Linked DNA regions of Homo sapiens: region 2 is linked to region 1. The links come from fine-mapping of genetic effects on gene expression. A gene starts in region 1. The other region holds a variant in brackets. All regions are shown on one strand. Distances are between the middles of the regions.

Region 1 (2,914 bases):
GGGCTGAGGAAAATCTAGAAAGCTGAAGGGCAGTGAGGCATTGCCAAGTGTCCTGCTCTGGATGACTCTTGGATGGGGCCAGAAGGGCCAGCTGGGAGGAAGGAGGCAGAGAGCTCCATGTTGCCACAATGCAGCAATTCTGCTGGGTGGAGGTCCTGCTCCTTCCCCAATGGTGAGAAATGTCCTGTCCTGTTGCCTGTTCCTAAGAAAACGGGGAGTGCCCTGCATATTCCCACAGCACACTCTGCTTACTCCTAGCCACACTGTATTCAAACGATCTAAGGACAGAGAGAGAACACATGGTCACTCATGGATACTGCCTGCCTAACTCTTCCACATCCTTCAATGCCTGGCTCAAACTCCACCTTCTCCATGAGGGCTTCTCTGGCTACTCTAGCCTCAGGATTCTCTTTTCTTGGCAAGCACTAAACTCTCAGTCTCAAACTGGTTTCTGGCATGCTTCAGTCTTCTTAACCCTGTATGGCCTGGGCTGTGGTTCTGCTACACAAGAAGCTTTAGCACTGCACTGGACCCTGTAAGTTTGTGATGCTTCTATCAGATGTTCCAGGCACTCCTGCCAACTGGGGTGCATGGAGAGTGGCCTAGCGGAATAGAGTCTTTGTCCTCCCACCCCGAAGCCCAGGATCTCTGCCTGTGGGAATATCACGTGTGAGGGACTTGAAAATCTTCACGAGTCATGTAGTTAAAATGACAGTTGTTGAGGGAGGAAAAAAAAAAGCAACTGTAAACACATATGACACTCTAGTCAATGATATGCACGATGACGTATTTAGTGAGGTGTCCTGATGTCTGCAATTTATTTGGAGATGCATCAAAATGTAGGCTGGATTCGTGGATGTCTAGAACAGTGCGTGATAGTTATGTGACACAGCAAGTATAGCAGCAGTTAATGGCAGAATGTAGGTGGTGGGTATACAGATGACCACTATAAAATTCTTGCTGTACATCTGAACATTTTCAAAATAAAGTATTGGGGAAACCACACACACAATAAACAAAAAGACTGTTGTTAAAAGTTCCCCGTTCTGTCAGCAAATCTCCAGCGGACCTAGTGTTCTGTCTCTGCCAGGACTGTCTCCTATCGACCTGGGGGTGGTTTGGCTTAGATGTTACTTCCAGGAAGCCCTCCCAGGGCCGCAAAGACAGGGTGAAGCGCCCCTCCTCTGCATGCACCGTACTTCCTCAGCTCAGCACGGACTTCCCTGTACTGTGAGGGCTCTACCCCAGCAGGAACTACAGCACCACGTCTGCTACACAGAGAGCCCTCAACCAACCTCTGTGAATGCCATCGCCCAGCCTCTCTGTCCTCTGTCACCCGGGCGCCTAGCCAACAGCCAGGACCATGGCAGATGCTCAGCGACCCTGGACCTCCCGGTGAGATCCGCGGCCAGTCCTGCCCAGGCCTCTTTTCCGTCCTAGGTGGCCCTCTTCACATGCCATGCCCCGGCCCCATCAGGACCTTCCCTGCCGCGTCCCCTTCGGCGCCTCTCCTCCACCCAGCTCCTTTTCCGAGGACCCCTCCCTCACCCAGCCGCCCTCCTATACCCCACCTAGCTGAGAACTGAGAACCCTTTACCCGCCGGCCCTCCCCAGCTGGGAACCCCACCGCGTCCTTCCCGCACCGATTTTGCCCGGCGGGGCATCTCCGCCAGCAGCGGCGGCGGCGAGGAGCGCGGTCAACGCGGCGAGCAGCGGGGCTGCGCGGGCCATGGCGGGCGGCGAGCGGGCAGCACGCCGGATTCAGGCGCTAGCGGGTTGGCGCTCGGCTCTCCGCCCCGCCCCGGCGCCCCACTGGCAGTCCCGCCTTCCTGCCGCGCCAGACCCAGCTCCGCATTGGCCAAGCCGCCGTCCCTCTCCAGCACGAGGCCCTCATTAGCTCCATCTCTCTCGGGGTAGGCTCTCTCATTGGCAGCTTCCCCGTTCCGCCCCGCCCCCCGCATGCGGGCTCCTCATTGGCTGGGTTCATTCTTGCCCGGCGCAGGTGTGCCCGCTTCGGGTCCTCAGCATCAGGACCAGGGCCCAGCTGCGGCAGAGGGATGAAACAGACCAAAGTGAAGCTTTGAAGACCTCGGTTATGTCCAGCCTCTGCGTTATTAGCTCTGTATCTTCTCTGTGTCTGTTTCCTCTATTATAACACAGACGAAGAATCCTGCTCCACCTTTCTAGGTGGTTGTAACCATCTTATGAGATAAGGGAAGCCTTTTGCAGTGTCTGCAAGTGCTGGAAATTGCTGACCAAGCATGCGGCCAGGGTGGTAAGACGCTACCTCATTCATATGCTGACACAAGCCCTATGCTTTCTATACTGCTGTTATTTATGTGTTTGCAGTTTTTATATAGTTAATATCTCTGCTTTCTGCTTCCTAAAAACCAAAAGGCGGGGGAAGGTTTCATCTACTCTCTTTTCAGAAAGGAGAAAAGGAGGGATAAACTCCCATTTTCATCCTCTAAGAAGACAAGAGCAGCAGCTCAGACTTGCTAGTTTATCACGCTGTGAAAAACAGACTTCCTCTGGCAGAAAATAAAGTTAGGGATGAGTTTCAGAATAAAGAAAATCCGGAGGCTGGGGGTGGCTCAAGCCTGTAATCCCAGCATTTTGGAAGGTCAGGCGGGAGGATCGCTTAGGCCAGCAGTTTGAGACCAGCCTGGGCAACATAATGAGACTCTGAGACCCCGTCTCTTAAAAAAAAAAAATTCGCCAGGAGTGGTGGTGCACACCTGTAGTCCTAGCTATTCAGGAGGCAGAGGTGGGAGGCTTGAGACCGGTAGTTTGAGGTTACAGTGTTCTATGATTGTGCCACTGCACTCCAGCCTGAGTGACAAGAGTCCCTGTCTTTAAAAATAAATAAATATATAAAAATAAATGAAATCCATATTTACTCAGTGAGATTATG
Region 2 (2,914 bases), 34 kb before region 1:
CTTAAACACTGAAGTTCTAGGCTTCACACTGAACTAGGCCTGGGGCTCTAGAGATGAAGACCAAGTCCTTGCTTTCAGGGAACGTCCACCCTCTGTTGGGGAAGGCAGGTAGGTAAAGAGCCAATTGCTAATTTGTACGGAGCCACAGGGATGCATAGGGCACACTGAAAGCTCATTTCCTACTGAGGGATCTGGGAAGCTTCTTGGAAGCGTGCACTGCGACCTGAAGAGTAAAAACGGCAGAGAAGGGCATTGAAGCAAAGGGAACAGCATAAGTCAAAGCCCAGAGGCTGGATTCAGAGCCACTCAGAGGATGACTTTCTGGGTGACATTGGGTGGGTGATTGGGCCTCAGTTTTTCTATTTGTACAATAAACGGGTTAGGTAACTTGCTGCTGAGGAAGGAAAGGGGAAAACAATCTCACACACGCAGACACACATGCGCACACACACGCACACACACGCCCACACACACGCAGACATGCACACACGCAGCACACACACGCACACACACACGCACGCGCGCACACACACGCACACACGCACGCACACACGCACGTACACACACATGCACACACACGTACACAGATGCAGAGACTGTGGTTGTTTCAGCCTTAGAGGGTAAGACATGACTCACTTCTAGATGACGTTATTGACTCAAAGGTAAGGCCTCTTGGGCCCAGCCTCCAGAGGGAGAGAAAGAGAGAGAATGAAATGATCCACAGCATACAGTAACAGCAATTTATGTTTTCATTTAAAAATAGTATTTATTGTTTGAATAGATAATATCTATACATTGTCACCATCACAGAGGTACAAAGGGTGTTCTGTGAAGAGTAACTTCCCTTCTAACCCCACTCCCTTATCAACCCATTCCCCTCCCCAGAGAAAATCACTCTAAATTTTTATATAGACTTCCAGAGAGTCTATGCAAATGCAAGCACATACACTTACAAGTATACATATGTACAGTCCCTGCATTTTTGGGGTACAGATTGGGGTGTACTATTCACATTCTTATGCACCTTACTTCATTTACTTAATAACAGCTATTGGCTATTGGAGTGTATCATTCTACAGCGGGCTGCCTCATTCTTTGAATGGTTGGATAGGGTTCCACTGCACGGAAGTGCCATAAGTCATGCAACCCATCCTATAAGGATGAGCACTTTGAGGATGCTATTGTACTAACAGATTCCTTTAACACAAATACAAGATAGAAATTAGAAAAGATAGAAGTAAAAGTCCTTTGTGATTACAAACAATGCTGCAAAGCCTGTCCTGGTCTTTGTGTCATTTCCACATGGGGCTGCCTCTGTTGGACAAAGGCGTAGAAGAGCGATTGTTGGATCAAAGTCCTTGTGCATTTGTGATTCTCATAGATATTACTCTATCCCGTTACCCACCTCCCTCATGGAGGTTGTAACCATTGTGTACTCCCACTTGCAATGTACAAGAGGCCTGTGTCACAGAAATTTTGAGTTTCTCCAGGCAGCCTGGGAGAGAGAGTAAGGGGATGAGAAGCTGGGGAAGAGGGCAGGGCATGGGGAGAAAGGAGGACATCCTTTGAAGGAGGAGGCCTGGGAACTGTAGGAGGCTGAGGACTAATGTGAGACAAGGCCGATGAGAAGTTCCTGGGGTCA[C/T]GACAGTGACCTTTAGGCTTGCAGAGCTTATAGCCAATGGTGAAGTCATGCACACCAGTCAGTCACCCTCCTCTATTGCACACCGGCCAGTCGCCGTCCTCCATTGCACACAGTTCAATCACCCTCCTCCACTGACAGCTCAGTGACGGGCCTGCCATGCTTCCAGAATTGCATTCCCAGGAATGACACTTGAGAGATGAAGGAGAGGTGCTTAGGGGGCCCAGTGGTTGGAGGAATGGGTAGTAGCCTCAGAGACAGGAGCCCAAATCAGGAGCCAGCACTGTGAAACAGCAGGCTGTGCCAAGGACTAATTTAGGAGAAACTTAAGCCCCCTAAAACTCTAAAATTGGGAAGAATTCCCTGCATTCTCTGATTGTGTGGGTTGGGAACTGAAGCCATTTTATCCTGGTGTTAAAGGAAAGAGACTTTGTGCCTGGGGCAGGCAGTCACTTGGTGACACCCCCGTGGCTGAGGTTCTCCATGCCTCTAAGCCTGGGTGTCTTTCTCCCTGCTCTTCCCAGTCCCGACAGGCTGGGACCATCCCACCCAGAGTTAAGAGGCTTTGTGTTCAAAATCCTGGTCCAACGCTGGGCGCAGTGGCTCACGTCTGTAATCCCAGCAGTTTGGGAGGCCAAGACGAGCAGATCACCTGAGGTCAGGAGTTCAAGACCAGTCTGGCCAACATGGTAAAATCCCATCTCTACAAAAATACAAAAATTAGCTGGGGATGATGGCAGGTGCCTGTAATCCCAGCTACTCAGGAGGCTGAGGTGGGAGGCTTGAACCTGGGAGGTGGAGATTGCAGTGAGCTGAGATAGCGCCATTGTACTCCAGCCTGGGTGACAGAATCAGGTTCTCTCAAAACAAAACAAAACACAAAGGAAAAACTCCCCACAAAAAACCAAAATCCTGGTCCAGGGGTCCCAACCCTTTTTGACCATAAACTCCTAACAATAAATAACAGTTTATTAAAAAAATTTTAATTTAAAGTTATTTTTAAAAATAAATATTTATTTATAAATTCTATAAAGAGCTATTATACTAATATGTTCCTTTAACACAAATAAAAAATAGAAATGAGAAAAGACAGAGGTAAAAATAGAAGACCTGATAGTCTTCCTAAGCCTCAAATGACACCCTACTTTGGAAATCACTTACCTAGCTTTAAGCGTTTTCAGAGCTGGGTTGGCGAAGGGACTTGGAGGGCCTTGTGTATCTCTGTGTGTGTGTGTGTGTGTGTGTGTGTGTGTGTGTGTGTGTGTGCTAACTCAG

The links. PIP is the estimated chance that this variant, and not a neighbour inherited with it, causes the effect. A credible set is the group of variants that fine-mapping cannot tell apart.
Region 2: its variant is the best candidate, but not a certain one, in a credible set for the expression of PCYOX1L in stomach (GTEx, PIP 0.67).

The regions. Positions count from the first base shown.
Region 1 is chr5:149,356,886-149,359,799 of GRCh38, reverse strand. It overlaps PCYOX1L (prenylcysteine oxidase 1 like), which reads right to left and starts at 1,754. Exons shown (of 6, transcript NM_024028.4): 1 at 1,644-1,754. The coding sequence starts at 1,731. GRPEL2-AS1 (GRPEL2 antisense RNA 1) reads left to right here and starts at 2,158. Exons shown (of 2, transcript NR_132366.1): 1 at 2,158-2,275. RefSeq lists silencers at 1,515-1,724, 1,745-1,904, 1,925-1,974 and an enhancer at 1,700-1,994.
Region 2 is chr5:149,390,579-149,393,492 of GRCh38, reverse strand. It overlaps a transcript of IL17B not described here. Among named protein-coding and RNA genes, the nearest start is that of IL17B, 13 kb to the right of the region's middle. The variant C/T (reference allele first, on the strand shown) is at 1,643.